Linked DNA regions of Homo sapiens: regions 2 and 3 are each linked to region 1. Evidence: fine-mapped expression QTL. A gene starts in region 1. Each other region holds a variant in brackets. All regions are shown on one strand. Distances are from middle to middle.

Evidence for each region. PIP is the estimated chance that this variant, and not a neighbour inherited with it, causes the effect.
Region 2: its variant is fine-mapped to the expression of CLN8 in whole blood (GTEx, PIP above 0.99). The same link has a PIP of 0.9 or more in lung.
Region 3: its variant is fine-mapped to the expression of CLN8 in gastroesophageal junction (GTEx, PIP above 0.99).

Annotation. Positions count from the first base shown.
Region 1 is chr8:1,758,003-1,768,410 of GRCh38, forward strand. CLN8 (CLN8 transmembrane ER and ERGIC protein) reads left to right here and starts at 5,787. Exons shown (of 3, transcript NM_018941.4): 1 at 5,787-5,883. It overlaps CLN8-AS1 (CLN8 antisense RNA 1), which reads right to left and starts at 6,582. Exons shown (of 2, transcript NR_134303.1): 1 at 6,432-6,582; 2 at 3,961-4,926.
Region 2 is chr8:1,796,192-1,806,599 of GRCh38, forward strand. It overlaps MIR3674 (microRNA 3674), which reads left to right and starts at 4,934; the gene lies at 4,934-5,001. RefSeq lists enhancers at 3,865-5,064, 4,898-5,559, 6,220-6,880. The variant A/G (reference allele first, on the strand shown) is at 4,666.
Region 3 is chr8:1,784,421-1,794,828 of GRCh38, forward strand. It overlaps CLN8 (CLN8 transmembrane ER and ERGIC protein), which reads left to right. Exons shown (of 3, transcript NM_018941.4): 3 at 1-2,150. Among named protein-coding and RNA genes, the nearest start is that of MIR3674, 12 kb to the right of the region's middle. RefSeq lists a silencer at 866-988. The variant T/C (reference allele first, on the strand shown) is at 5,182.

The sequences.
Region 1 (10,408 bases):
CCTCCAAGGTCACACAGCCAGCAGAAGTAACACCCAGCATAGAGATCACCAAGACAGCATCAGAGCCCTTTAGTACGATATCCCGAGTGTCCCGCATGCAAGCCATCGGCACTGTGTTTTGTGGCTCAATATTTTTCAGTTTTTAAGAAAGATACACTTTTTGGAAAAAGAAATGGACACAGTGAATGCCCGCATCAGCAGAAAGACAGTTTTCTATAATGAGTTCTTTTTCTCTTTATTTCTAAGGTTTAATTTTGCCACACTTGCTAAAGAAAACATTATACACGGCCCTTATTAAAGAACGGTAAGACAGACTTGTCAACACAAAGAGTCAAATTTGTAAATTAGTTGATGAGATTTATTCTGAGCCAAATATGAGGACTTTGATTGATGACACAGCCCCATGAGGTCCTAAGAACTGCTGCATAAGGTGGTTGGGTTCTAGCTGGATTTTATGCATTTTAGGGGGACAGAAGTTACAGGCAGAAAATAAGAAAAGGGCAAGACGATCCCCTGCCACCTCCATGACGTCATTTCAGTTCTCTTCTCCAAACACCTCACAGTATCGTATTTCAAAATTCGGCTTTGTCATTTAGCAGTGTGTGGAGGTGTACATGTTGCCAATCGATACATGTAAGGTGTCCAGTGGTTTGGTCCAGAAAGGTGACACAACTCCATGGATGCAGGTGGAAGGTGTCCAGGTCACAGATGGATTCAACGATTTTCTGATGGGCAATTAATTGAAAGAGTTAAGTTATTATTGTAGAGACCTGGAATGAATAGAAAGGATTGTCTGGGTTACGATAAAGGTTGTGGAGACCAAGGTTTTTTATCTTCAGAGCTCTTATTGGACCTAAAAGAGGTGCCAGACTCTTAGTTAAATCTCTCCTAGATCAGGGAAAAGACCTGGAAAGGGAAGGGGATTCTGGCAGGATGTGGATTTTCCCCTCAAGAGACAGCCGTGTGGGGCCCCTTCAAAATATGTCAAAGAAATATATTCTGGGGTAAAATGCTTGATTTCTTCCAGGGCCTGCTCTCTATCATGTGATGCTATACTAGAGTCAGGTTGGAATGTAGTATCTTATTGCTACAGAGTCTGTTTTGTCAACCTTAAGATCTCTGCTTTGACGTTAATGCAGGTCAGCTGTGCCTGGATTTCAACGGAAGGCGGGTATAAGGAGCCTGTCCCACCCCCACTTCCCATCACGGTCTGAACTAGTCTCTAAGGTTTACTTTGGAAAGCTCGTGGCTAACGGGGTTGGCGGGGGACTAGAATTTTATTTTTGTTTTACAGTCTCAAAGGAATCGCGATAGGTGCAGGGGCCACTGCAGTGGGACTAGGCTCAACTCTGAGTGTAAGAAGAAAAACGGGAATGTACAGCCACGGAGAGGGTGAGAACGGACGGAAAACTATGAAGAGGCTACATCAGGCCAGGGGGGTTCTTGCTAGAACCACTTGGTAGGATTCGTGCCACAGGCAGGCCAGGTGATAAGATACCGAGGGTGAGGGATGAGGAGTATGATATCAGGGGCGGGGAACTGTCACTGCATTGACCCAGCAGGATTCTTTTGGACGAAAGGGGACAGGGGTCCAGGTCAGAGCCTTGAGGGCTTCGAGGACCCTGCCTGGAGTTAGGTCAGGTAGAGTCTTTGCCACATTGAGGCTGAGAAGCTGAGCAGCTGATCTGCGGGAGTCCAGAGACCCTCATGCTTCCTGCAGATGTGCTGTCAGCAGATCCTGAACTTGGGTTCCAGTGTTTTAAAGTGTTGTTTGCAAGCACCGCGGTCCTGCTCTCCCACTCACAGAACTACTATTGCTCACTGGTGAAGGACACTGGATTTAAAATCACAGACGTTCTTTTTCGCCTCTCGCTCATTATACATCCCTTTGAGGACACCGTCATTTTGCTGTTTAGGAGGAAGAAACAGGCAGAAGAGAACTCCTCCCATCCCTCCGCTAATGGCTTTTAAAACAGTCTTTTTTGTAATGGAACAACCAAACCTCACAATGAGCGTATATTGCTTGTGTGACCAGAAAGTAAGACAGTCCCCTGACACCTCAATTAAGTCATTTTGGTTGTCTACTCCAGACACCTCATGGCATCGTACTTCAAAATTCAGCTTTGTCATTTAGCAGTGTGTGGAGGTGCACACATTGCTAACCTCAGGCTCACTGAACACTGTTTTTTTTCTATGACGTGGATAATGGTGCCTGCGTCAGACACCTGTGATGTTTGAAAGAACCAGTTTATCAAAGTGCTTAGCCTGACGCCTGACACGCTGTGCACCCAAGATAAATGTTTGTTGTGTCATTCGATCTGTCGAGGAAGGAGGTGAGACACTTGTGGGTGGCAGGGCGGGAGGGGAGTACACAGGCTGTAAACAGCAGTGCCCAAGCTGAGACGGAGCAAGCTGGGAATCCGCCCGGGTTTCATTCAGTGTTCCACACCCCGCATGGATACTGGTTATACCTGTGATCAGTTATGCCTGTGATGGTTTTTTAGAAAACAAAACTATTTTATCACTCTGCTTTAAAGATGGCCGAGTGGAAAGACACAGTCCTGGAATGTTTAAATTCAAGCTGAAGAGCTTACTAGCCACGTGACTGAGCAAGTTATGGTTCCATCTTTCTAAGCCTCACTTCATTCTTTGTTAAGACAGGCCTCAGCATGCTGTTAGTAGGAATCTAAGGAACCCAGTGCTGATGGAGAAAGGGGTCCAGTCCAGACCCTAAGAGAGAGTTCTCGGATCTTGCGCAGGGAGGAACTCAAGGCAGTCGCAGAGTGCAGTGAGAGACAGCTGCTCTGATACAGAGTGGGGAGCCCGCGGAAAGCAGGAAGAAGAATGTGCCATCTTTGTTTCAAAGGCATCTTGTATCAATGTAAAAGCCAAGCTACGTGTAAGTGCAGGTGGGCTGGCAGTGTGACAAGATCTAGTACTTGGTGGATGTAAATAACGTTATCCTTGGCATTTCAGTGCGTAACTACATCTAAGCATGACTATAGCCATCTTTTTTTTTTTTTTTTTTTTTTTTTGAGATGGAGTCTTGCTCTGTTGCCCAGGCTGGAGTGCAGTGGCATGATCTCGGCTCACTGCAACCTCCGCCTCCCAGGTTCAGGCAATTCTCCTGCCTCAGCCTCCCACGTAGCTGGGATTACAGGCTACTGTAACTGCCAATCAGGTTCATGTTGCCTACACAGAGCTGATTTATCCAAACAGGTGAACTGCATAGAGAAAGAATAATCCACACAGAGCTGGCTGTGCGGGAGACCAGAGTTTTATTATTACTCAAATCAATTTCCCCAAGAATTCGGAGTTCAGAGTTTTTGCTGTTGTTTTTGAGATGGAGTCTTGCTCTGTTGCCCAGGCTGGAGTGCAGTGGTGCGATTTCAGCACACTGCAACCTCCGCCTTCAGGGTTCAAGCAATTCTCCTGCCTCAGGCTCCCAAGTAGTTGGCATTACAGGCGTGCACCACCACGCCTGGCTAATTTTTGTATTTTTAGTAGAGACGGGGTTTTGCCATGTTGGCCAGGCTGGTCTTGAACTTCTGACCTCAAGTGATCCGCCTGCCTCGGCCTCCCAGAGTCCTGGGATTACAGGTGTGAGCCACCGTGCCCAGCCCTGGAGTTCAGAGTTTTTAAGGATAATTTGGTAGGTAGGGGGCCAGTAAGCTGGGAGCACTGAGGGGTCAGATCAGAGATGAAATCGTATGGATCAAAGCTGTCCTCTTGGCCTGAGCCGGTTGCTGAGTGCGGGCCACAAGATCAGATGAGCCAGTTTATCCATCTGGATGGTCCCAGCTAATTCAGCAAGTGCAAGGTCTGCAAAATATCTCAAGCACTGTTGTTAGGTTTTTCAATAGTGATGTTATCCCCAGGAGCAATTTAGGGAGGGTCAGAATCTTGTAATCTCCAGCTGCATGAATTCTAAACCATAATTTCTAATCTTGTGGCTAATTTGTTAGTCCTACAAAGGCAGTCTAGTCTCCAGACAAGAAAAGGATTTGTTTCGGGAAACCATAAACTAAGTTTCTTCCAAAGTTAGTTTGGCCTACACCCAGGAATGAACAAGGACAGTTTGGAGGTTAAAAGTAGGATGGAGTTGGTTAGGTCAGATCTCTCACTGTCTCAGTTATAATTTTGCAATGGTGGTTTCACTGGTTTTAAGATGGAGTTTATTTTATTTTATTTTTATTTTTTTGAGACAGAGTTTCATTCTTGTTGCCCAGGCTAGAGTGCCATGGCGTGATCTCAGCTCACTGCAACCTCTGCCTCCTGGGTTCAAGCAATTCTGCTTCAGCCTCCTGAGTAGCTGAGATTACAGGTGCCCACCACCACACCCGGCTAATTTTTTTCTCCCAAACTGCTGGGATTACAGGCTTGAGCCACCGCGCCCGCCAAGATGGGTTGTTGATTTTAAAACGATGTCACCCTGGCTCTCCTAGGTTCCTGTTCCCCTAACATCATGAAGGCTGCTGGCAGTTCTCTGGCCTCCAGGGAGGCCTCCACACACATTTACCCATGTTCTTAGACAATCCTAGGGACTCAAGGCTTCAACAAACCTAAATGAGCCAGCAGAAAAATAAACTTGAACATGAATGTCAACGTTTTCCCACATGTACTAAAGGGTTATAATAATTTTGAAATGTTTATTTCAAAGAGCGTTGGTAATTTAAACGTCCTATTTAATCCCCAAAACAGTCCTGAGGGGGAGATAAGGCAGTTATCTTCATAGTACAGGAAAGGAAAAAAGCGAGGGTCCAAGGCCGACTATACCCTCAGCTCCATTAGCCCCCGAGGCCTCCCTGACAGGCGGGGCGGACAATCCCAGTGCAGATGCTCTGTATCGATCGCATGCTATCGGTTCTTTCAAGGAACGTGTATTGATCATCAATTAAGTGGTGAGTACTCCTCTAGATGTCGATTCTAAAGAGGGAACAAAACACATTAGACAGAAGAAACATAAGTAACTCGAATAACAACCTTAGAGAGAAGAAACATAAGTAACTCGAATAACAACCTTAGCAAACTGCGGAAACTCCTACAGACAAAAACTCAGGTGTGGGCGCAGAAGGGCCGGGGATGCGCTCGGTCAAGACTTGAAGGTCCGGGGCTTGGGCCCTGTGTCCTCACCGAGCCCCGGGGAGGCTCCGGCTCCGTCCACACCCGGAGCGCGACTCAGCCGCGGCCGGGGCTCTTCTGGAGAACGGCGCGGTCAGGCTCTGCCGCAGCTTTCAGGTCCCCTCGGCCCCGTCCGGGTGCAGCGCAACCAGGCTGCCCGCGGAGCCCCACCGCCCCCATGCCGCCGCCCGCCATGGTTCAGCCCGGCCCCGCCCCTCCCGCCGGCCGTGGTTCAGCGCGTCCACCCCGCCGCCCCACAGCGCCCGCCGCGCCGCGCCCCGCCCCCCGCCGCGCCCCGCCCCCCGCCGCGCCCCGCCCCCCGCCGCGCCCCGCCCCCCGCCGCGCCCCGCCCCCCGCCGCGCCCCGCCCCCCGCCGCGCCCCGCCCCCCGCCGCGCCCCGCCCCCCGCCGCGCCCCGCCCCCCGCCGCGCCCCGCCCCCCGCCGCGCCCCGCCCCCCGCCGCGCCCCGCCCCCCGCCGCGCCCCGCCCCCCGCGCCGCGCCCCGCCCCCCGCCGCGCCCCTCCCGCGCCCGCCGCCCCGCCCCTCCCGCGCCCGCCGCCGTCGTAGCGCCTAGGCGGGGCCTCTCGTAGCGACGCCCCCAGGGGGGCAGAACGCGTGCGCACGCGCGTGCGAACGCGCGTGCGCGGGCGGTGTTTGAGGCCGGCCAGTCGTGACTGGGCGGCAATGAGGTCAGTGACTGCCGGGAGTCCTGCAGGGGCGGGGCGGCGCCAAGCGCAGGGAGCCCGGCTGAGTGGCAGCCCAGGTGAGCGCTCAGGGAGCCCGGGTGAGGGCCGGGAACCCAGGTGAGGGGCAGCCCAGGTGAGCGCGCGGGGTGCCCGGGTTAGGGGCCGGGAACCCAGGTGAGGGGCAGCCCAGGTGAGCGCGCGTGGAGCCCAGGCGAGGGGGCTGGGAAGCCCGGGTGAGGGGACCGGGGATCCCAGGTGAGGGGCCGGGAACTCAGCTGAGGGGGAACCCAGATGGGCGCGCGGGAGCCCACGTGAGGGGGAGCCCGGGTGAGGGGCCGGGGTGGCTCCTGGCGTCCGCGGTCCCAGCCCTGCCTTCCGGTGGGCGTGCGGCACCCCGGGCCGTGCGGTTCCCGGACAGCAGCTTGTGGGGGACTTTCGAGCCCCGCAGCCCGGGGTCCTGCCTGCGCGGGTTGGGCGTGGGGGGCTCCTCACCGCGACGCTGACTTTGGAGTCCTTGAGCGGCGCGGATGCCGGACGGAGGGAGGGGACAGGCGGAGGCGGAGGCGGCGCCGTCGCCCCTGACCTCGCTTCCCTCAGACCGGCTGGGCAAGTACGGTCAGCTCACCTGTGTGCCCACGAGGCGGGGAGGCGGCTCCTGCAGAGCCACAGAGGTGCCGTCGGAGCTGCTGTCAAGGACAGCAGGTGTCACGTGGGTGTGGCCTCCACTGGTCACCGAGTTAGCTGGGGCGGAAGGGGACAAGGTGCAGCTCAACATGGTGTGGGAGGCGGAGGGACGCTGGGTCAGTCAGAACCTGTAGGAGCGGGGAGGGACGCTGGGTAAGGTCACCAAAGTGTGCGGGGGAGAGAGCGGGCGCTGGGTCAGGTCAGCAGGAGGTGGGACCCGCCTGGGCTCTGGGCCCTATAGCCAGCTGCTCTAGGTTGGGGTTGGGTGTGGACAGTAGGGAGGGGAGCCAGGGGCTCCCCAGCCTGTGTAGATTCTGCTGTAAGTGACTCTTCTCTGAAAGACTGGCGCGAGGCGGCTGCTTCTGACTCCTGTTTCAGTTTACCCTCTGTGTGAAATCTGTAACTATCCAGCTTCTGCTTACCTCACTCCCGTATTTTGATTTTTATTTACATACAACTTTTCAGGAAGGTTGTGAGAGGAAAGAGCAATGGTGCAGGAAGTGTGAGTGATTGAGGGAATATGAGATGGCCACAGCTCCCCACTGAGCTTGAACACTTCTGTGCCTCACTTTCAGATTGGCCGTCATGGAGGCTGTGGTTGTTAAGGAAGTTCTTCCTGAGCATCCAGTTTCCATACAAAGAGCACAGGTTCTCTAGGTGGCCTCAGAGATGTTCAATACACAATGTCTTCTGATAACGAGGAACTGGGCAAAAGCCTGGTAGGACACCGGGTAGGTAAATGGTGGAGTCCCTGCAACCGTGTTGCAGAGGAGGATTAGCTGTTGCTGAGAGAAGAGAAGCAGGCCGGGGAGCAGCTTGTATACTGTTATCCCCTTTTATGTAAAAAGAAGAGTTTATATCTAGAAAAACAATTGACCCAGCAGGCACCAAAAAATAGTGATGGTGCTTGGAGCTGTGTAAGAGGATTGTAAATTTTTATTTTTGTATTTTTATGCTTGTTTATATTTTCTGAATTTTGTGTATTAAACATGTATTTCTGTTGATTTTGGAAAACATTTTTACAACCCATCAATGTATAATTTTCAAAATGTTAGAAGTATAATTCTCATGTAAATAGCTCTTGTCAGGTTATATTTCAGTCATTAATGCAGTATACAGCAGGATAGGAATGTCAGTTCAAAAGAGAATACACAAAACTAGGATTTTCTTAGTGAGTGGGTAACAGGAATGCTGAGAGAAGATTGCCAGATTAGATAATAAGATTGGTGAATATCCTGTGTGCATTGAAACCACAGCCTTTGGGATTGTCTTTTCTTCTTGATGGAAAGGAGAATTAGCTTTGCAGATTGTAAAATGCGTGACCCACAATCAGTGGTAAATAGTTTAGTTATTTCTCCTAGAAAGTCAAGTGATTGTTGGGGTTGTAAAACACTGAACTTGCGTTAGCAGGGAAAAAAGCATGCAACCTTTTTTTTCCCTTTTGACGTCACTTCCAAGTTTGGATAAATTATCTCAATGAAAAACAAAAATGCTGGTATCCATAGCAGTTTAGCCCCCATAAACCGGAGGAGCGCATAGATGCATGACAGAGTCGAAGGGTTCCAGTGGCCACTGAGCCTGGTTCCTGGTCACACTGCAGCAACAGAGCTAACACTCTTACTGATGTGTTTGCATTCAGATTTTTAAAAAACTTCATGGCCCAGTGCAATAGAAGAGCTGAAACCACAGAATCTTATAAGACAAGCTTTTTGTATACATTTTCTCCAAAGAAAATGAAGATCTGCAGCGTCAAGAGATGGTGGCCTTCCAGGAGTTGTTTATTCTCCGGCTCCACTTCCTCTACTGCAGAGAGGAAAGGGGCTGGTGTGGAAGGGCTTGGAAGCCTTCCAGAATGAAAGAACCAGATGAGTCCATTAGGTTCGGCCTCCAGTTTTTTGTTTTTTTTTTTTTTTTTGAGACGGAGCCTCACTCTGTCACCCAGGCTGGAGTGCAGTGGCGCTATCTCAGCTCACTGCACGTTCCGCCTTCCAGGTTCCCGCCATTCTCCTGCCTCAGCCTCCCGAGTAGCTGGGACTACAGGCGCTCGCCATCACGCCTGGCTATTTTTTTTTTGTATTTTAGTAGAGACAAGGTTTCACCATGTTAGCCAGGATGGTCTCGATCTCCTGACCTCGTGATCCTCCCACCTTGGGCTCCCAAAGTGCTGGGATTACAGGTGTGAGCCACCCTGCCCGGCCGATTCGGCCTCCAGTTTTACCCATGGAAGGAACAGTGACTTCCAGCTGTGCATTACACTTAAGGACTCCTTCATGTGGCCTGAGCCTTATGGTGCACAGCAAGGGAACAGTGGGAACCCCTGTGTCCCATTTTGCGTATCAAGAGTGAGAGGGTGTGGTTGGGTCAAGGAGCAGAAATAGAAGCAAAAGGAGAAGCTGAGCTCTTCCCATACCCCTTCTGTGCTGCCTGACAGAACAAGGCCTAGCCACACTTCTGTGGGTGCCCACCTTGTGACTTGGGGTGAACCACAGCTGTTCTCAGTACAACGCTGATGCCACGAAAGGACAGCAGAGCTCTGCAGGACTCCAGGAAGACTGGGCGCTTGGGCTGGATCCTGCCTCTGGGACTGGCCTTCTACCCTCATGGCTGAGAGAGCTGAGGAGTTCACCTCCTTTGTGAACTCCTGGCTGGAGGATGCTGGTTGGCATTAACTAAACTCAGAGACCCACAGTAACGAGTTAGACTAGAACAGCACCAGCTTACCCAGAAAGTCAGGAGGTTTGAGCAAAGAATCAGAATGGGGGATTCACTACAGGACTGGAAGGGGAAGTAAGCATTCTGGTCTTTATAATCTGCTGTTTCTGCATCCCTAATTGGCACCTGTTCTCTGACTGCCAGGAGGGTTTGCCCACTCAGCTGTGGCTTACCTGTTTCTGTTTCCATGTCTTTCACCTATCTGCCACTTTTCTGTAGATATGGTAATCTCTCCAAAAAGATATCTAGAAAGCTTGAAGACCTGGTAGCTATTTGCTCTTATGGTGAAGATCACACAAACTAGTTGAACATCTGGCTTGTAGTAGGTGCTTCATTTCCCGCTGCTCTGTATGTTTCTTTCTTTTTTTTTTTTTTTTTTTTTTTTGAGACGGGGTCTCATCTTGTCACCCAGGCTGGAGTGCAGTGGCGCAATCTCAGCTCACTGCCACCTCCACCTCCCGGGTTCAAGCGATTCTCCTGCCTCAGCCTCCCAAGTAGCTGGGATCACAGGCATGTACCACCACGCCCAGCTAATTTTTTGTATCTCTAATAGAGTCGAGGTTTGACCATGTTGGCCAGGCTGGTCTCGAACTTCTGACCTTGTGATGCACCTGCCTTGGCATCCCAAAGTGCTGGGATTACAGGCGTGCGCCACTGCACTCGGCCTGCTCTGTGTATTTCTTTTTCCTGTAGTCAGATTCTGGGGTCCAGGGTGGTTAGGAAAGAAACTTGTTTTCTTTCTTTCTTTTTTTTTTTGAGATGGAGTTTTGCTCTGTTGCCCAGGTTGAAGTGCAGTTGTGTGATCTCGGCTCACTGCAACCTCCACCCTCCTGGGTTCCAGAAATTCTCCTGCCTCAGCCTCCTGAGTAGCTCAAATTACAGGTGCGCACCACCACGCCTGGCTGATTTTTGTATTTTTAGTAGAGGCAGGGTTTTGCCGTGTTGGCCAGGTTGGTCTTGAACTCCTGACCTCAAGTGATTCACCCACCTTGGCTTCCCAAAGTGCTGGGATTACAGGTGTGAGCCACCACACCCAGCCTGAAACTTGGTTTCTTAGCTCCTAAATAGTGAAATCAAGATCAGAGCCCACTAAGCCAGCCGCTCTTCTTGGTTTTTGGTTCTCATGTCCTGGAGTCCCTCTCACCTTGACCAAACCAAAGACCTCCTGAAGCATCACTTGGGCTCACCACTTCCACTGAGGTGGAT
Region 2 (10,408 bases), 38 kb after region 1:
TCTGGGCTAACCACTCCATTAGCTGCAGCCCTACCGCCAGCACCTGGGGGCAGGGAGTTACAGTCAAACTCTTAAAAAACAAATAGCCGAAAGTGCAGTGAGGTTAAGCATCCCCTGAGGACTGGACGAGCAGACCTGCCTGCTTTGCAGAAGACGGGGAGGGGAAGGAGAGCAGGGCCATCTCCTGCCCAGCCCCGAGCCTCCCTGATAGTCCTCCCACCCACCCAGCTCCGGATGATGCTCCCACTCACAAGATTGCTGCTTTTTCCATAGACCGGTAGGAACTCCAGGCCTTTTCTCCAGCTGTCCCTGAATTCTCCTTGTTTCCTTCCTTCCTAACTTCCTCCATCCAAGGCTGGAGGCCCCAGTTTGGAAATCAGGACCCACGTCCCCCTCCACACCTTCCTATTTGTGTAGTTCTGTTTCGAGTCTGGACTCAGTAAATCTCTCTGTCCTCCTGGACCAGGTGTTGGCGCACTGGGGCTGCCGTGGAAACTGCCCTGGATGTTTCCCAGTCATTACAGATCCCAAGACACTCCTAGGTCCCAGATCCCCAGATCTGGAGGAAAGGGGCCCCTTCTGCCAGGCTTCCTCCCTGGGTCACAAACTCACATCTGCCTGGACTCCCACTGCTGTCTCTCTCTTTCTCTCTCTCTCCCCTCTTTTTAACTGTCCACTAGGTTTTATGGATAACTCCTGAGAGAATGTCCCAGTCTGCTTACCATCACATTGATCCCGCCCACCAGCATTGAGGCTCTGCACTGTCTCCCCTCCCTTGCCTGTCCAAAGCCCCTTCCACCCGGGACCGTCGCCCCTTTACACTCAGGGGTACTGGTCCATCTATGCCATGCTGAGAGCTGCTGCCATGAAAAGACCCCTGGATCTCACCCCCTCCAGCAGCTACCTCTTCTCTTTCTAGAGAAACCACCTAGAAGGACTTCCTACACACACCAGCCCCACCTCCTCTTTCCTGTTGTCTCTTAGGCCCAAGGCCCACCACAGTGCCCTTTGCCCCCCACAGTCACCCCTGCCAGGGCACCGGCGGCCAGCACTTGCTCCACCAACCCTTCCTCCAGAAGAGCTTTTTTGGGAGGGATCCTGGAGCCCGATCCTGGTCCCCCTCCCATCATCCTAACCTCCTCCTGTCTTTCTTCTCCATCTGTAGGATCTTCCCAGGCAAAGTCACCTGTAAATCACATCCATACCCAAGAAGCTCCCAAAATCTCACTTCCAGCCCAGACCTGAATACTGGGTCAGCTGACACCTTATCTGGAGCATCACACACTTTCTACAGCCTCAGGCCACCCACACCAGGGCTTTGCTTTCCCCCACAAGGTGCTCTTCTTCCTGTTACCTCCATCTCGGTACAGGGGGCTGCTCTCCTTCCAGGTGTTGCAGTCAAAACTTTTGGGATTTTTCTTGATTCCTCTTTCTCTTCAAACCCACTTCCCATCCCGAGGCCCGTCCTGTTGACCTAGCCTGTTCATAATAAAGCCCTGCGCCCTTTCCTCCTCCTCTAGTGGTTGGATGAGTGTTCGTGTACCAGTCACTAATTTGATCCCAGAGTCTCCACTAGAGACAGGAGATGCCTCTGCACACACTGACACACACCGAGTGTCACAGCAATTCCACTGGTGGGAGACAGACACCCCGGAGCATTTCAACAATCGCTTTTCTCTGTTGAAGTTTTCTTCTGCCCCATTCACTGTCTCCTCTGACCACACAATTTGGTTTTGCCTCTTTCTCCATGTCGAAGGCTTCCTTGTGTCTGGTGGTCTTCGACTATTTATTTCTCAGCATGAGGCACTGAGAAAGGATGTGGAACCCCGGGTGTGCGTGTGTGTGTGTGTGTGTGTGTCTGTGGCATAAGGAGGTTTGCCTGTGGGACCGGGGATAACCAGGGAGGCGCGTGGGTCTCATACTGAGGAACTCTTGAATCACGCAGATTTTTCTCATGGGTGTGTTTCCCTGAAAGGAATTCTGGGGTCCCTGGGGTGCGGGGCGGAAGGATCTGTCATGCTGTCCCCTGGGGTGCGGAGCGGAAGGATCTGTGATGCTGTCCCCTGGGGTGTGCGGCGAGAGGATCTGTCATGCTGTCCCCTGGGGTGTGCGGCGAGAGGATCTGTCATGCTGTCCCCTGGGGTGTGCGGCGAGAGGATCTGTCATGCTGTCCCCTGGGGTGCGGGGCGGAAGGATCTGTCATGCTGTCCCCTGGGGTGCGGGGCGAGAGGATCTGTCATGCTGTCCCCTGGGGTGTGCGGCGAGAGGATCTGTCATGCTGTCCCCTGGGGTGCGGGGCGGAAGGATCTGTCATGCTGTCCCCTGGGGTGCGGGGCGGAAGGATCTGTCATGCTGTCCCCTGGGGTGCGGGGCGAGAGGATCTGTCATGCTGTCCCCTGGGGTGTGCGGCGAGAGGATCTGTCATGCTGTCCCCTGGGGTGTGCGGCGAGAGGATCTGTCATGCTGTCCCCTGGGGTGTGCGGCGAGAGGATCTGTCATGCTGTCCCCTGGGGTGTGAGGCGGAAGGATCTGTCATTCTGTCCCCTGGGGTGCGGAGCGGAAGGATCTGTCATGCTGTCCCCTGGGGTGCGGAGCGGAAGGATCTGTCATTCGACTGCCACAACTCTTGGATCCAAGTAGGCAAAGGCCACTGTTCTTTCACTCCTCCTGCTTCCCATTGCTGCCTCAGGATCTCCATGACAGTGTCTTCTGGCCGATTCCTCCTGGGCCCTCCGAGCTGGGCTGGGGCTGCCACCTGCCCTCCTGGGTGTGGAGCAGGACCTGGTGATCCTGTGCCTCCTGCTTTCAGCCTCGCCTGATGTCCCCTTTCAGAGATGCCTGAAAGGCTCTCCCTGTAGCTCCGGTAGCCTCCTCTGGTTGGCCTCACCGGTGCCCATTCGTCCATCATCTGTCCATCTGCCTCCAGCCCTCAGACTTTGCCATGGCCCTCTGCCTTTCACTGTCTTGGCACTGGACCATTGTATTCCTCCTCCTGCTCCTCCTTCTTCTTCTCCTCCTCCTCCTCCTTCTTCTTCTCCTCCTCCTCCTTCTTCTCCTCCTCCTCCCCCTCCCCCCTCCCCCTCCCCCTCCCCGTCCCCCTCCTCCTCCTCCCCCTCCTTCTCCTCCCCCTCCTCCTCCTCCTCCTCCAATTCTTGTTCTTCTTCTTCTTCTTCTTCCTCTTCCTCTTCCTCTTCCTCTTCCTCTTCTTCTTCTTCTTCTTCTTCTTCTTCTTTTTCTTCTAAATGGAGACAGGGTCTCACCATGTTGCCCAGGCTGGCCTTGAATTCCTGGCCTTGAACAATCCTTTTGTCTCGGCCTCCCAAAGAGCTGGGATTACAGGTGTGAGCCACTACACCCGGCCATGCCTTCTATCTTCTTTCTCTACTTTCAACACTTAAATATTTTTAGCCAGGTTTCAGCAGGAAATGGATGGACATGAGGGCTCTGTCTGCCTGTTGGACCAGAAGCCCTTGCATCTGATCTAAACAAACCCCTTCTTGCCTTTGTTAGGGTTTCTGCTTGGTTTTATTCACAAAATTGACGTCTCAACTCTAATATTTATGTTCTTGTCACAGACAACTGTGATAGACTAATCAGTTACCTAATTGTCCTAAACCCAATCTTTTAATAAAATCTGGTTTCTTAGGACCTGGAGCGACAGGTTTGCGAGAAAGCTCCTCCCTGGATGAGGCCAAGAGCGTGGGAGTGAGTTCCAGGCTCCCAGAAGTGGGAAGTATTTTGGAAGTATTTTGGATTTAGGCGGTAAAGAATTCCCTATAAAAATAGCTGAACAGATTGGCCTCATATCACTGTGGGACTTTCTTGGAACATGAGGTGAGGTTATGGGTTGGCTTGCAAATAAAACCAAACACATTTCCCAATGAGGGAATGGGGCTGTGGTTAGGATGGGATCCGTGGGGGTTCTGGGGTGCTGGCAGGGCTCTGCTTGTGATCTGGTTACATAGCTATTTGCTTTATAATCATTTAGTAAATGTGTGATTTGTGAATTCTTCTGCATATGTTTTATTTCACAATAAAATGTCAACTTTTTTTTAACAACTAAGCAAAGTTAAGAACAATGCAGTGTAATTTCCTCGGAAATACGCTTTGACAGTTATTTAATTGGGCAAGTGGAAAATTACTTTTTATGAAGATGGTTTCTGCATATCATGAAAATGCCGTGTGCTGAACCATGCAGTAAGTGAAAGCGTCTAGATAAGGGCAGCCATTTGTTCTTCCCGATAAGGCACTCTCTACTGTTTTCTCTGGAATCAAACTGGCACGCCTGATGACTGGTGTTTTTATAAATCAGTGAGTATTTACATGTCTCAAACAGGCAAGTTTAAAACCACAAAGTCAGGGGCATGTTAAAAATTTGACTTCGGGTCTTAACGATCCACTGATCTTTTCATTTCTTCATTTTGGGTCCGGCTGCTTTGCATGAGGATGTTTTTCTCCCGTCTCTTATTGCCTGGCTTACAGGAGAGTTGGGTGATAGGAACACAAGGAGCAGAGAACGCACTGGCCTCTGACAGCCGCTCTGTGCAGATTCAGTCCTTCAGCCACCCGCAGGAATTGCCGCCAGAGTAGGACATGTCTTCTACCCTCTTGGAAGTGATGAAACCACCTTTCAGAAATTACAGCAGTGAGAAAACTATGACGTTG[A/G]AAGATACCTGATCTAACCAACCCCCATCCTGCCTTTGACCTCCAAACTGTCTTTCATCACTCCTAGGCCTGGGCCAAACTAATTTTGGAAGATATTTATAGTTTAAACGATAATAGCCCTTCTCCCGAACTGAACTGCCTGTGTAAAGCTAATGAAAGGCCAGTAGGTTAGGAGGATGAGAGGAGCCTGGATTCTGCTAAAATATAGATGTAAACGACGACCAGCCATTACTCTGGAGGTCACAAGATTTGCAGCTTCTGCAGATAAACATCACTATTGTAGAACCTAAGATTGGCCGTTTGAGATGTCCTTTCAAGTTTTTGCATTTCTGATGTCCGACTGATCCTGTGGCCCCACTCAGAAGCGGACTCCCTGGCCTGCTAAACTACCCTTGAAATACAGTAGCCTCCAAATTTTCAGGGAAATTGATTTAAGTAATGGTCAGGCCTCTGAGCCCAAGCCAAGCCATCGCATCCCCTGTGACTTGCACGTATATGCCCAGATGGCCTGAAGTAACTGAAGAATCACAAAAGAAGTGAATATGCCCTGCCCCACCTTAACTGATGACATTCCACCACAAAAGAAGTGTAAATGGCTGGTCCTTGCCTTAAGTGATGACATTACTTTGTGAAAGTCCTTTTCCTGGCTCATCCTGGCTCAAAAAGCTCCCCCACTGAGCATCTTGCGACCCCCACTCCTGCCCGCCAGAGAACAAACCCCCTTTGTCTGTAATTTTCCTTTACCTACGCAAATCCTATAAAACGGTCCCACCCTTATCTCCCTTCGCTGACTCTCTTTTCGGACTCAGCCCGCCTGCACCCAGGTGAAATAAACAGCCATTTTGCTCACACAAAGCCTGTTTGGTGGTCTCTTCACACGGACGCGCATGAAAGGAATAACTCCATCTCCCACGTGGCGTGGCTGGCCTCGTGTCAGTTAAACTTTCTTTATTGCAACACCATGGTTTCAGTGAATTGGTTTTCTCTGTGCAGTGGGCAGGAGTTTTAATTTCTTAATTTTGTAGCCAGCCTTCAGGCGGTGACAGTGATTGGACAATCACTTTAGTAGCATGAGATACTGAGGCTACTGCACTCGGATGGAATGGGCAGGAAACATGACTTGAATGCACCATGGACTCTACACCAGCATCTGTCCCCTGCAAAAGGGGCTCTGGGAACTAGAACAGTCATTCCCACCTTCTGAGCGCATTAGATCACTGCAGGGAGCATTGGAACGTGCTTTCCTGGGCCGCTCTGGGCCCAGGCTCCCATGTGAGCATCCGTTTTAAACCAAAAATAAAATTCCGAAAACCAAAAGCCCCCCATCCAACTGAATGGACCCCTACTCTTGGCCAAGAGGATTCCAAACAAACCTGAAAAACAAGTCAGGCCGGACGGGAAGGGGAGGGTCTGATACGCCTCATTGTATCCTCTCCCTTTGGGGTCAGGAACAGCCGATGGCATTAACATTAACACAGAGACCTTCGGACTGACCAGACAGGCTCTGGAAGTGATAGGAACAAGGCCTAGGGTGCAGGAGGAGCCTCGAGGGCTCAGCTGGGCTAGCCTGGGTGGAGGGGCCACAAGAAACCCCTGAAATGACAGAGGTCAAGTTTCATGGCCAGAAAGACTGGAGTCAGAGTGAGGAAGGGGGATGCAGTGGCCAGCCTTTGCTGGGAGCTGCCTCTGTGGCCACACCCAAAACTCCTCCCCCTGCATCGGCCACTCCAGTCCTTACGGTGGAACCACAGGCTCTTGTGAAAGGAAGATAAATCTCGAGACCCCAAGTCACTAAGCCAAAGGGAAGAATCAAGCTGGGAACTGCATCAGGGAATCCCGCCTCCCATTTTACTTAAAACTGCAGATGCAGGCTGGGCATAGTTGTTCACACCTGTAAGACCAGCACTTTAGGAAACTGAGGCAGGAGGATTGCTTGAGTCCAGGAGTTTGAGACCATCCTGGGCCATGTAGCCAGGCCCTGTCTCTAAAAAATAAGAAAAAAATGCAGATTCACTAAGCCAGACTAAGGCAAGAGTGACTGTTCCTCTACCCCCCTTTCACATGTAAATTGTGTATTTGGTGAAAGAAGGGCTAATCCCAGACTCAAAAGAATGCAACTGTTTGTCTCTTATCTGCCTGTGACCTGGAAGCCCCCACTTTGAGTTGTCCCATCTTTCCAGACCAAACCAATGTGCATCTTACACCTACTGATTGATGTCTCACGTCTCCCTAAAATGTATAAAACCAAGCTGTGCCCCGACCACCCTGGGCACATGTGGTCAGGACCTCCTGAGGCTGTGTCACGGGCTCATCCTTAACCTTGGCAAGTAATATGGTTAGCCTTGTGTCCCCACCCAAATCTCATCTTGAATTGCAGTCCCCAGGGACACAGCTGGCCGGAGGTGACTGGATCATGGGGGCGGTTCTCCCCATGCTGTTCTCGCGATAGTGAATAACTCTCACGAGATCTGATTTTTTTTTTTTTTTTTTTGCGACAGAGTTTTGTTGCCAAGGCTGGAGTGCAGTGGCGTGATCTTGGCTCACTGCAACCTCCACCTCCCGGGTTCAAGCGATTCTCCTGCCTCAGCCTCCCGAGTAGCTGGGATTACAGGTGCCTGCCACCACACCTGGTTAATTTTTGTATTTTTAGTAGAGATGGGTTTTCACCATGTTGGCCAGGCTGGTCTCGAACACCTGACCTCAGGTGATCCACCCTCCTCGGCCTCCCAAAGTGCAGGGGTTACAGGCGTGAGCCACTTCGCCCAGCGATCTGATGGTTTTATAAAGGGCAGTTGCCCCAGGCTCTCTCACACTCGCTGTCCTGCTGCCTTGTGAAGAAGGTGCCTGCTTCCCTCTTGCCTTCCGCCATGATTTTAAGTTTCCTGAGGCCTCCCCTGCCATATGGAACTGTGAGTCAGTTCAACCATTTTCCTTTGTAAACTACCCAGTCTCGGCTATTTCTTTATAGCAGTGTGAAAGTGAACCCACACGGCAAAATAAACTTTCTAAATGGATGGAGACCTGTCTCAGATACTTTTGAGTTCACACTTTCATCTGTGGGCTGTGGTGTAATAGCATCTTTTCAAGCCTCCCTGTGGAGGTGGGATCTTTTGGAGTGATTATTTATTTTTCTACGATGTGTAGCTTAATTTATGGTCTATGTACATTTTCCCCTTTGCAGCAGCTAACCTTCACTCATTTACTATAGTGATTTTTAGAATTTTTACTGTTTGTCAATAACTTCCTTTGCAAAGTGTTCCTGCTTTCTGGCATGACTTTTTTATTTTATTTATTTATCTTTTTTAGACAGAGTCTCGCTCTGTCACCAGGCTGGAGTGCAGTGGCATGATCTTGGCTCACTGCAACCTCTGCCTCCCGGGTTCAAGTGATTCTCCTGCCTTAGCCTCCCAAGAAGCTGGGACTACAGGCACACGCCACCAGGCCCAGCTAATTTTTGTATTTTTAGTAGAGACGGGGTTTCACCATGTTGGTCAGGCTGGTCTCGATCTCTTGACCTCATGGTCTGCCTGCCTTGGCCTCCCAAAGTGCTGGGATGACAGGTGTGAGCCATGGCGCCTGGTGTGATTTTTCTGTAACTACATCCTACTTATTCTGGACTAATGAGAAAATAGCAAGGGTGTCCATCTTCATCAACACTGCCTTGTTTGGACAGTTTGGTACAGGCTTCAAGGTTTCAGGCCTTAAGCTTTTGCAAATCACTTGCTCAGAAAAACTGGGGACAGCAGGCCCATTTATATTCATTTTAAACACTTGACAAGAGGAAGATGTCATTTTACAAAGGGTAAATGTTTCTTTGGGTTATGCTGATAGGTTACTGTTAGTGCTAATTTAAAAAGACATGGTGTGTCAAAATATGGCTAACTGGTTCTTATATATTTCTTGCTAATTCAGCCATGAATAAAATGGACTTGTACATATTGATACTTCTTATCTATTAAAGAAATCCACTCATTGTTTTAATCAGTATATAAATGTAATAAGTATTAGTTTTGGAAATACAAATTACAATAAAGAGGGAAACAGACCATGTGTTAATATCTTGGTAAATTTCCTTCCTGTTGGTTCTCCTGTGTGTCTGCCCAAGGCCATGCACTAGCAGCGTTTCCTATGTTTGATTCACACCTTGCATAACTTACACACACTCCAGAGGTGGGTTTTATTCCCATCTGTACTAGTTTTAGGTGCGGCTGGGAGACGTGGAAGGAGGGACATGGCATGGCCACCACTGGGCGGGAGAAGTGAGCCTGCTTCTCCAGGATCTGCCTCTCCTCGCCTGTGGACCCAGCTGCTGCTCCTGCTTCTCCAGGGCTGTGGACCCAGCTGTCTCCTGGGTTTTCCTTGGGGCTGATTTTCACATGAAGCTGCTAATTTGGTATAGGAACACTCGGGAGTTTTGGTTTTCATTTCAACATCATCCCCTCCCCACCCTGCCCCCAGATAATCCTGTAACTCCAGGTCTCTCACTCACCTGTACAAGGAAGGTTTTGAAGTGGAGGCTACCTCATGTCCTATCCCCTAAATATTTTCAGTAATATTTGTATCAATGGATTTTCTGAACCTTTAAAAACTAGAAATTCTCTCTCTCCACACAAAATATATATGCTGTACATACTATATATAGTCATAAAAATGTATATACAAAAATTAAAAGTATATGTAAAAAGGGGCTGGATGCGGTGGCTCACACCTGTAATCCCAGCACTTTGGGAGGCCGAGGCAGGTGGATCACCTGAGTTCAGGAGTTCGAGACCAGCCTGGCCAACATGGTGAAACCCCATCTCTACTAAAATTACAAAAATTAGCTAGGCATGGTGGTGGGCGCCTGTAATCCCAGCTACTTGGGAGGCTGAGGCAGGAGAATCGCTTGAAATCAGGAGGCAGAGGTTCAGTGAACTGAGATCGCACCACTGCACTCTAGCCTGGGCAACAAGAGCAAAACTCCATTTCAAAAAAAAAAAAAAAAAAAAAAAAAAAAAAAAAAAATATATATATATATATATATATATACACACACATATACGCAAAAAGGAGATTTTAATGAATATATAATTTTGTCAACTAAAAAATACAGAAAAAAAAGAATGGCTAAAAATTATTGGGTCTACAACTTTAGAAATTGAATAGTAGAACAAACCAAAAGTATATTGAAGGGAGAAAATAAAAATAAGGCCAGAATTAATAAAGCAGGAGATAGTAATTCCATGGGTACAAATGACAGAATGGATTTTGAAAAGACAGAAAAATTGGAAACCTCTAGCAAAATGATCAAAGGGAAAAAGAGACAGAGAAAAAGCATGGAGGTGCAGACCAACAATCTGAGACGTGACTTCAGAGTGTCCACGCAGGACCCCGCAGAAGTAGGTGAGTGTGGCCTTCCCAGGTGAAGGGGGCTTTGCAGATGTAAGGAGAGGATCTGAAGGGGGAGATTGTCCTGGATCGTGTGGGTGAGTCCAGTGTATTCCCAAGTGTTTTTGAAAGTAGAAGAGGAGGCAGAAGTGTTCAGGGGTGGGCGACAGCATATGGACTCAGCCCAGCATTGCTGCTTTGGAGGTGGGGAAGGGGCTGCAAGCCCAGGAGAGTGTAAAGTGCAAGGCAAGTCTTCTCCCTGGAGCCTCCAGATGGGAATGCAGCCCTGCCACTGCCATTTCAGCTCCGAGAGAGCCCTGCTAGATTGTGACCTGCAGATACACAACCACAGACAGTCAATTTGTGTTGTTTTTAA
Region 3 (10,408 bases), 26 kb after region 1:
CAGCTAGTTCTCCGCTGCCTTTTTATGAGGCATTAAGCCATTTGCAAGAGTAGGGGGCCCCACCTCTTAATACCACCGCAATGACAATTACAATGTCATGTGAATTCTGGAGGGGACACGGTCACACTGCAGCATCAGCACCCGGTGAATGTGGTTCTCTTCCCATGTCCGAATTTTGTGAGCTCCACACGGGCAGGGTTGCATCTGTTTTATTCTCTGATTGATTCTAAGCCCCATGTCCCTGGCACAGGATGGCTGCTTGGCAGTAGGGAGTGGATGAACCAGTAGTACCCAGGGCTGCCAGGCAGGGCCCTGCAGGGGACAGACCCAAGGGCTGATATGGGGACACCTGCTGAGGGGGGAATTTACCACGGTAAGGGCAGGGCTGGGAGGCTGGGCAGCCAGTTTCACCCTCGCACAGGCTGCCTGGCAAGACCAGCGGCTGGAGGTGATGTCCTCAGTAGAGAACGGTGGCCACTGGAAACGTGTGGCCAGAAGGGGAAACGCTCGGGCCTCTGGTGGGGGCCAGCCTGGGGTGGGGTCGGCCAGGGTCAGCTGCCTTTCCTTCATGCTGGGGAGGAGATGTTGTGTGCATGTGAGAAAGCATTTGATAGCATGCCAAAAGTTTCCTCCATTATGTGCGTGTCAAGTGTTTGACCAGGTCAGAACTCTTGTTCTATGCGAATGTGCTCACGCAGACAGAAGCGGAGGGGCTCCGTCGCTCTGCCCTCACGCCGCTGAACCGCGAGGGTCTCCCGCTCCTCAGGCTTGCGGCTCGGCCGCGAAGTGTGTCAGGTGTGCATCCTGGGTGCTCCTTTGTGCTCTGTCCTACGGTGACACAGGCGGCGTGGGGTTAGACAGGTACCGGTCAGACTACGGTGACACAGGCGGCGTGCGGTTAGACAGGTACCGGTCAGATTACGGTGGCACAGGCGGCGTGGGGTTAGACAGGTACCGGTCAGATTACGGTGGCACAGGCGGCGTGGGGTTAGACAGGTACCGGTCAGATTACGGTGGCACAGGCGGCGTGGGGTTAGACAGGTACCGGTCAGATTACGGTGGCACAGGCGGCGTGGGGTTAGACAGGTACCGGTCAGATTACGGTGGCACAGGCAGCGTGGGGTTAGACAGGTACCGGTCAGATTACGGTGGCACAGGCGGCGTGGGGTTAGACAGGTACCGGTCAGATTACGGTGGCACAGGCGGCGTGGGGTTAGACAGGTACCGGTCAGATTACGGTGACACAGGCGGCGTGGGGTTAGACAGGTACCGGTCAGATTACGGTGGCACAGGCTGCGTGGGGTTAGACAGGTACCGGTCAGATTACGGTGGCACAGGCGGCGTGGGGTTAGACAGGTACTGGTCAGATGCACGGGCTCCCTAAACCCCTGCTGTGGCTTCGGCAGTAAAGACAGGACGCACCCATGTCACAAGAGGAGCACAGGCAGGGGTGTTGGTGTTGGGGCAGCCCTCAGGGTCTCCAGACCCCAGCCCCACTCACACAGCAGCCTAGGAAGGAAGGGCAGAGTCCCAGGTGTCAGCTGGTGGGTCTCCCAGGAGCTGCCCCTCCCTGGAAGTCACAGGACAGGAATGACAGATCAGGGAACTGCAGGAAGCTGCCACCTCTGGGGTCAGAATATGCCCAGCCTGCGGGGGCTCTCTATCGGGGTCTTCGAGAGCCAGACAGCCTGCCTTGTGCTGCATACCTGGCTTTGCTCTGTGCAGAACCCAGCACACGTGATTTTGTGTGACATGCCAGCAGCCTGGCTCCCAGGACAGGAGGCCTGCCCTGGGGGAGGGGCTGCAGGAGGAGGGGGGGCAGGCACCCATGAGTCTGTCCAGCCTTGTCACAGATGCATCGCCCACCCTGCGGTCCTGATTTCAGCTCACCTCAGAGTAAATCAGAATAAACTGCACCCAGACTTTCACGAATGCATGTTGACGCTTTCAGTTCACCCCTTTCTTTGCTAACTTTCTTCCTATTTTCTTCTAATGCGAGAGCTTATTAATTCCATATTTATCATTTTGAATAACTTTTCTCCTTTTTAGTAACAAAATGTACTTCACTCTTAGTAAAATGTATTTACTATTTTAGTAACAAAAATATACTTGCCTAATCATGTTTAAAATATAGTGATGTGAAAAATTCAGACGTCTCTATTTCCTTTCTTCCGATGACTCAACCCCAAATGTCTGGAATTGATTCCGAGGTATCCAGGACCCACAGCCAGCCATCCAAGAGGAAAAAGAAACCACACCCTTCCTTCTGGGAACCTGGCCAGGAACCCCAGAGCACAGGCGCCTGGCCTTAGTGACACTTCTTTTCCACATCTGCAGGCCCATGGAGTGAATTCATTTCTTTTCTCTCTGCATGTATTTTGCTTTTACCGTTGTGCTGTTTCACGCTTGGCAGCCTCAGTTAGCACTCCAGCCCGCCTGAAGCCGTGCACAGCCCATTCCTGCAGGGTTTGATACCTGCAACCTCAAACCCATCAAAAGAGTCCAAAAATTAAACCAAAGTTAAAATCCTCCATTATTACAGAAAGTTATTAAATGTCAAGTCTCAATCTGAAAAGTTTCTGCCAAAACTTTACATAAAAAACTTTTTTTTTTTAATTTAAAACAGGTTCTCTCTATCGGCCAGGCGTGGAGTGCAGTGGCGTGATCGTGGCTCACTGTAACCTTAAACTCTTAGGCATAAGTGATCCTCTTGCCTCAGCCTCCAAAGTAGCTAGGATCACAGGCGCATGTCACCATGCCTAGCTAATTTTTAAATTTGTTGTGTAGAAATGGGGTCTTGCTGTCTGGCTCAGGTTGGTCTCAAACTCCTGGGCTCAGGCAGTCCTCCCATACTGGCCTCCCAAAGTGCTGGAATTACAGGCATGAGCCACCGTGCCTGGCCTACACAGAAAAGTTTTATAGTCCTTGTAACGTTCACGTTTTCTGTGTTGTTTTTCAAAAATCATATGGGAAATGCAAAATCCCAATTGGAACACAGTGCATTTTAGCTGCTGTTTCATTTGTTGCAAGGAATTTCCAAGCATATCTGGTCAACCCCAGAGATTTTGTTTCCACACAAAACAATCACGGAGCACAGAACGTTAGAGCCATAGAGTGGTTTTGTGGCAACAGCCAAAGCTTAGAAAGGTGGAGGCCACCATGCGATATTCCCATTGTGTGTTTTCTGTAATTTCAGATTATCTCAAATAGAAAGCACGCAGCCCTTAAAAAAATAAAGCTCAGGAAAAATCTCATTTGCTAAATGTGGCTTTTTACATTTTAATTTGGAACTAGTTGCAGGACTGGAATTGCATTCTGCCAGCGTCGGTCCCTGGTCAGCCAGTCCTCTGCCAGCTGGTGTCTGTCTTCTGGCCCTTGGCATGCACACAGCACAGTTCTGGCCACTGAGAAGGGGAGGGCTTGCAGCTGAGTGCGTTTGCCTTTGCAAGTGAAGGCAAGCCTGGATTGAGGACACCTTCCCGCCCCTTCCTGCCTCCTTTTTCCTTGAAATACAGTCCCGATGCCTATAGGGGCACCTGCCGTTGGCACCATGAGGGGCAGGCATGAGGATCCACATCCACACTCAGGCATGGGAAGCAACGAGTGGCACAGCCCTGGGCCACCAGCCTGGGGTCCCATCACGCAAGGAAAACACCGGCCTGACCGCAAAAGTGAAGGAAACGCCCCACCTGCCGTGTTCACCTTTACCCTTTCTCACAGACGTTCCTAAACACACAGGATGAAGGTGTTAACCTGCTAACCATGTTAACCACGTGAATGATAGAAAGCTCTCCCTAGGAGACACTTACGGTTTGCAACTGTGGACTTTTAAAAATCATCTTGGCTGGGAGGGGAGACAGAGTGGAGGGGCTGGACTCGCCGCCTGCATCTCAGATGCTGCAGCTTCAAAAGGAGGCTTCCTGGTTTAAAGGAAGTTGCTCTGTTCCGTTTTATTTTTGTTTTTAGCTTCTTATTTTGAACTAATTTCAAACTTACAGAAATTTGAGGGGGAAAAAAGAACAAATCTTCCATATACTCTTTATCCCTATTTATCTATTTTTAACTTTTTGCCACGTTTGTCATAGCAGTGTCTCTTCCCTTTCCCACTGTCTCTGTCCCTCTCCTTGCCTCTTCCTCTTTCTTTCTTTCCCCTACGTTACTTTATATCCCTTACCCCTTAATACTTTCGTGTTTATTGGCTGGGTACAGTGGCTCACATCTGTCATCCCTGCACTTTGGGAGGCTGAGGCGGGTGGATCACCTGATGCCAGGAGTTCGAAACCAGCCTGGCCAACATGGTGAAATCCCATCTCTACTAAAAATACAAAAAATTAACCAGGTGCACACCTGTAATCCCAGCTACTAGGGAAGCTGAGGCAGGAGAATTGCTTGAACCCGGGAGGTGGAGGTTGCAGTGAGCTGAAATCACGCAATCTCATTCCAGCCTGGGTGACAGAGTGAGACTGTGTCTAAAAAAAAAATAAAAAATTCAATGTTTATTTCCTAAGAATAATGATATTCTCTTATGTAACCACATAAGCTATCAATTCAAGAAATGTAACATGGAGCCAGTACCTTTTATCTCATCTACCGTTTTCATTCCAACTTTGACGGTTTCTTTCCTATCCTTTTTTTTCTTGGTCCAGGACGGAGTACCAGATCACATGCTCTGTTTAGTAATCATATCTCTTTATTCTTCTTTAACCTGCTGCAGTTCTTCAGCCTGTCTTTGTCTTTAACAGCAGTGATATTTCTGAACAAATACCAGCTGGTTATATTAAAGAATGCCCTCAATTTGGTTTGGTCTGGTATTTTGTCAGGATGGAATTCGAGTTATATATTTCTGGCTGGAGTGCTCTGTAAACGGTGTCCTTGAGATATCAAACACAGAGACGTCTGTCAGCTTGCCCTGATTGGCAATGTTAATTTTGGTCCCTGATAAGGTGGTTCCTCCTCTGAACAGTCACTGATTTTCCTCGTCCTTGGGTATATTGCGGGAGATCTGCTGAGGCTGAGAACGCCCTGTCTGCACATAAAGCTGCCTCCTGCCCCAAGCTGGCCTCACTGGCACCAAGTCACGTTTGCACTCAGTTGGGTCAACCTTCACGGTGATGGCTCAATATTGCTAATTTTCCAACTCCGTCACTTCTTACTGCATTCTATAAAGAAGGGCTACTTTCT[T/C]CCCAGTGTTTGTTTATTATCCCTGTGGGTTCTTGGATTCTCTGTTTGGCAACGGTATTCTATTTATAGTGGGTTATAATTGATTGTTGTTGTGATGTTGCTGCTCCCGTTGTTCCAGGTTTGCTGTGGGGGTCTCTTCAGGCTGTTGAATCGTCCTTCTTTGTACCAGTCCTTGTTTTGAGCACATCCTTATTTTCTTTTTTCTTTTTTTTTTTTACATGTCTGCATTTCTTTTTATTATTATTATTATTTTTATTTTACTTTAAGTTCGAGGGTACATGCGCACAATGTGCAGGTTTGTTACATATGCATGTGCCATGTTGGTGTGCTGCACCCATTAACTCGTCATTTACATTCGGTATATCTCCCAATGCTATCCCTCCCCCTCCCCCCACCCCACGACACGCCCCGGTGTGTGATGTTCCCCTTTCTGTGTCCAAGTCTTCTCATTGTTCAATTCCCACCTATGAGTGAGAACAATGCGGTGTTTGGTTTTCTATCCTTGTGATAGTTTTATCAGAATGATGGTTTCCAACTTCATCCATGTCCCTGCAAAGGACACGAACTCATCCTTTTTTATGGCTGCATAGTATTCCGTGGTGTATATGGAGCACGTCCTTCTTTCTTTTCTTTTCTTTCTTGCTTTTTTTTTTTTGTGACAGAGTCTCACTCTGTTGCCAGGCTGGAGTGCAGTGGCGGCTCACTGCAACCTCTGCCTCCTGGGTTCAAGCGATTCTCCTGCCTCAGCTTTCCAAGTAGCTGGGACTACAGTCATGTGCCACCATGTCTGGGTAATTTTTGTATTTTTAGTGCAGATGGAGTTTCACTTTGTTGGCCAGGATGGTCTCGATCTCTTGACCTTGTGATCCGCCTGCGTCGCCCTCCCAAAGTGCTGGGATTGAAGGCGTGAGCCACGCACCTGGCCACGTCCTTATTTTGTATGCAGCAGACACACGCCTTCTCTGCCGTGTGGTTGGATCCAGCCCTTTCTCTGAGAATTCTGGTTCTTTTTAGTGAGGAATGGAATTTAGAAGTTAAGATGTGGGTGGGAGATGTGCTCATTGCTCATGGGCCATCAGAACCTCCACACCCTTCTACCTCTGCTGCAACCCAGCCCCACGGCACTTCCTTGCCTGCCTCATTCCTGTGCATCCCGTCTTGCATGGTGACGACCCCGGCTCACAACAGCAGAGACAGCATCACGCATGGCTCAAACACGCTGTAACACAGAGCAGGTTTGGAATGGCTCCACCCACAGGGCCACAAGAAACAAACCCATGGAGAGTTCCAGATCTGTTTGCAGCTTTTTTCTTTAGTCTGAGGGTATGCAGTCAAAGTGCTGTCTCCAAAAATTACTTAAATTTGTTTTGTCCCGACTCCCCTTCAGATGATGGCTAATCATTTGACAGACACTTGGGTTCCTTTGTTGGCATTCTGTTGTAGCATTTTCCCCGATTCTTGATAATTTTATTATTTGAATATGTAAAATGTCATGATTCCAAAAGTTAAAACTATTCAAAAAGCTGTGCCCAGAGAAATGTCTTCTCCTCTCTATTTCTCCTGCCCTGTTTTCTCCAAAAGGAACCAGTTCGTTTATTTTAACAGCTTTCCTGAACTATAATTCATATACCATAAAATTCACCCGTTTAAAGTGTATTTAGTGTTTTTTAGTATTCATGGAATTGTGAAACCACCGCAATCAATTTTAGAACATTTTTATCACCTAAAAAAAAAAAAAAAAGTATTTGTCCCCATTAGTAGCTATTACCCATTTCCCGCCCCCCGACCCTCACTCCCGCCCCCCCTCCCCCCGCCCCGCCCCAGTCCTCCTCCCTGACCTTAGGCAACTGCTATCTTTTTGTCTCTATGGATTTGCCCATTCTGGACATTTCCTATAAGGGGAATCATACAATACATAGCCTTGTGCAGCTGGCTTCTCTCACACAGCACCATGTTTTCAAGGTTCATCCGTGTTGTAGCGTGTACCAGTTCTTTATTCCCTTTTATTGCCAAATCATACCCCATCGTATGGATTGACCACATTTTATGTAGCTGTCCATCAGTTGATGGCCATTTGCGTCATCTGCCCTTTTTGGCTGTTATGAACAGTTCTGGGATGAACATCATGTGCATGTTTTTGTGGGGACATAGGCGTCCCCTCTCTTATGTATTCCGCTAGGAATGGAACTGCTGGGTCCCACTGCTGGTTAGATGCTGAGGAACTGCCAGACCGTTTCACGAAGCACCTGCACTCTTGGCTGCTTTACGCTCCCTTCAGTGCGTGAGGGTTCCGGGCTCGGCACATCCTCAGCAGCCCTTGTTACTGCCCATCTGCGTCGCGACCGCCATGCTAGTGGGTGCGCGGTGGTGCCTGAGTGTGGCTTGCTTCCCATTTCCCTGATGGCTGATGACGCTGAGTGACCTCACTGGCACCTGGCCCCTTCGTGTGTCTTCCTGAGAGCAACGCCTCTTCACATCCGGTGTCCTTTTGGCCTGGTAGGGTAATTCTTTGATCGTGGAGTTGGAAGAGTTCTGGATCTATTCTGTATGCACACCACTTATGAGACACCTGGTCTGCACAGACCTCTTTGCACTCTGGGGCTTGTCTTCTCACTCTCTTGATGTTTCTAGAAGTTTCTATGTTTCTTTTGTTGTTTGTGGTTTTCGGATCATATCACAAAAGGCTTTGCCTAACCTGAGACTGCAAAGATTGACACTCATAGTTTTTTCTGAGAGTTTTCTAGTTTTACCTTTTACATTTAGGTCTTTGATCCCTTTCTAGTTTATTTTTCTACTTAGATTAGTTAACCTGTTCTAGGCCGTCTTACACATGAAATCATGCAGGATTTTTTTTACAGAAATCCTTCTTGTTACAATTTCAGCATTTATATTTTTGAAAAACATATGTCTTTCATCTATATTTCCTAACTAATGTAACATTTTTTAAAAAGTACTTTTTTATGTTAGCAAATCTCTCTATATCTGTAGGGTCTTTTGTTCTATATTTTGTTGATTTGTATCTTACTTGCTTGTTTTTTGGTTTGATTGGTCTTTTTCAAGCTCTACTTTATTAATCTTTCTAAGAAGTAGTGGTTTTTTTGGCTAATCTTTTTGATAAGTTTTTATTTGTTTCTGTCCTTATATTCATTATTTCCTTTCTTCTTGTTGTTTTCAATGTATTCAGTGTTTCTATTCAGTTTTCAGATTTTTGTATTGAATATTTTGTTTTATTTTGAAGTTTTCTTGCTTCCTGTAAATACATTAGAAATTATAAAATTTCTTTTAAGTGCTAATTTAACATTGTTTCACAAAGTGTGACATTTTTGTTTTTATTTTCATTTGGTTCTAAATATTTTGTAACCCTCTTCTGGTTTACTTTTAAACCCAAGGGATATTTAGTAATGTCATTTCCTTTCCAAAAATGTGGTATTTTAAAACTTCTATCCTTTTGTTATTTATTTCAAAATTTATTTTACTATTACATTAGAACACACTTTGTTGCTTTAGAGTTTATTGTGTTTCTTTCTTGCTAAATACATTTTTCATGATATATGATCAAATTGTGTAAACATTCTATGCATTTTTAAAAGTATAGTCTCCATCGGATGCAGAGTTCTATGTAAATATAATAATTTAGAATTTGTATGTTTCAAATCTTTGATGTCTGCTATTTTATATGTTTTAAGAAATATCTAGTATAATTGCCAACTTATGTTTTTCTCTGTAGAGTTGTGTCAGTTTTTGCTTTTTTTTTTTGAGACGGAGTCTCCTCTGTCACCAGGCTGGAGTGCAGTGGCGCAATCTCGGCTCACTGCAACTTCTGCCTCTCGGGTTCAAGTGATTCTCCTGCGTCATCCTCCCGAGTAGCTGAGATTACAGGCATGCGCCACCATGCCCAGCTAGTTTTTGTATTTTTAGTGGAGATGAGGTTTCGCCATGTTGGCCAGGCTGGTCTCGAAAACCCTTGACCTCAGGAGATCCGCCCGCCTCGGCCTCCCAAAATGCTGGGATTACAGACATGAGCCGCTGCACCCGGTCAGTTTTTGCTTTTTTAAAGAAACATGCTTAAGTACACATGTGATCATGATGGTTGCATCTTGTTCATCTGTTTCCTCTTTCAGGTGTGTAACAGCATGCTGTTCGCTGATTGCTTTGGACTTGGCAGATAGCAGGGCTACTATCTAGTTTTATATTGATTCCAATTTGCCTAGTACTTCTTTTTCTATTTATTTTAAACTTTTTAGTATCCTTTACTTTTAAATATGCTTCTCTTGGAAAACTGTTGATTCTTTCTTTATAAATCCAAGCTTCGTATTGGTGTTTTAGCTCATTAAGTTGATTGTGTCTGGTTGCAGCAGGACTTTATTTCTGCCTCCTTCATTCATAATTGGCTTTTACATTCATTTCTTTTTCCCTAAGTTTCTCCTATCGATTTTAATGGTGGTTACCTTTAGTTTAAGATCCACATCAATACATAGCTAATCGTATTGATTTCCTGAGCAGATTAATATTAAATCTTTGGACTCCCATGTTGATTCTGTTTAAATATTTACTTTTGCATTGTTGTAAATGTACTTCATCTTCTCTCCTCACTTTGGTCCTGGCCTTTTTTTTTTTTTTTTTGAGACGGAGTTTCGCTCTGTTGCCCAGGCTGGAGTGCAGTGGTGCGATCTTGGCTCACTGCAAGCTCTGCCTCCCGGGTTCACGCCATTCTCCTGCCTCAACCTCCCGAGTAGCTGAGACTACAGGCGCCCGCCACCCCGCCCAGCTAATTGTTTGTATTTTTAGTTGAGATGGAGTTTCACTGTGTTAGCCAGGATGGTCTTGATCTCCTGACCTTGTGATCCGCTCGCCTCGACCTCCCAAAGTGCTGAGATTACAGGCGTGAGCCACCGCACCTGGCTGCTCCTGGCTTTTTTAGATAACAATAGACTACTAAAATCTATTTGATCTAAAGTTTTTTATACCCATAGTTCCTATCAACATCCTCCTGGATTTATTTATCTTCTAATTTCCTTGAAGAACGTTTTCAAAGTGAGTTTTGGAAAAGTGGATCTTCTGAGGCCTTTTATATTGGAAGATAATTTGGTATGTGCTTATACTTCAGTGACAGTTGAGCTGGCTATAAAATTCTATGTCAAATTCCTTTTTTTATGTTTTATTTTATTTTATTTTATTTTATTTTATTTATTTATTTATTTTTTAGACAGAGTCTTGCTCTGTCTCC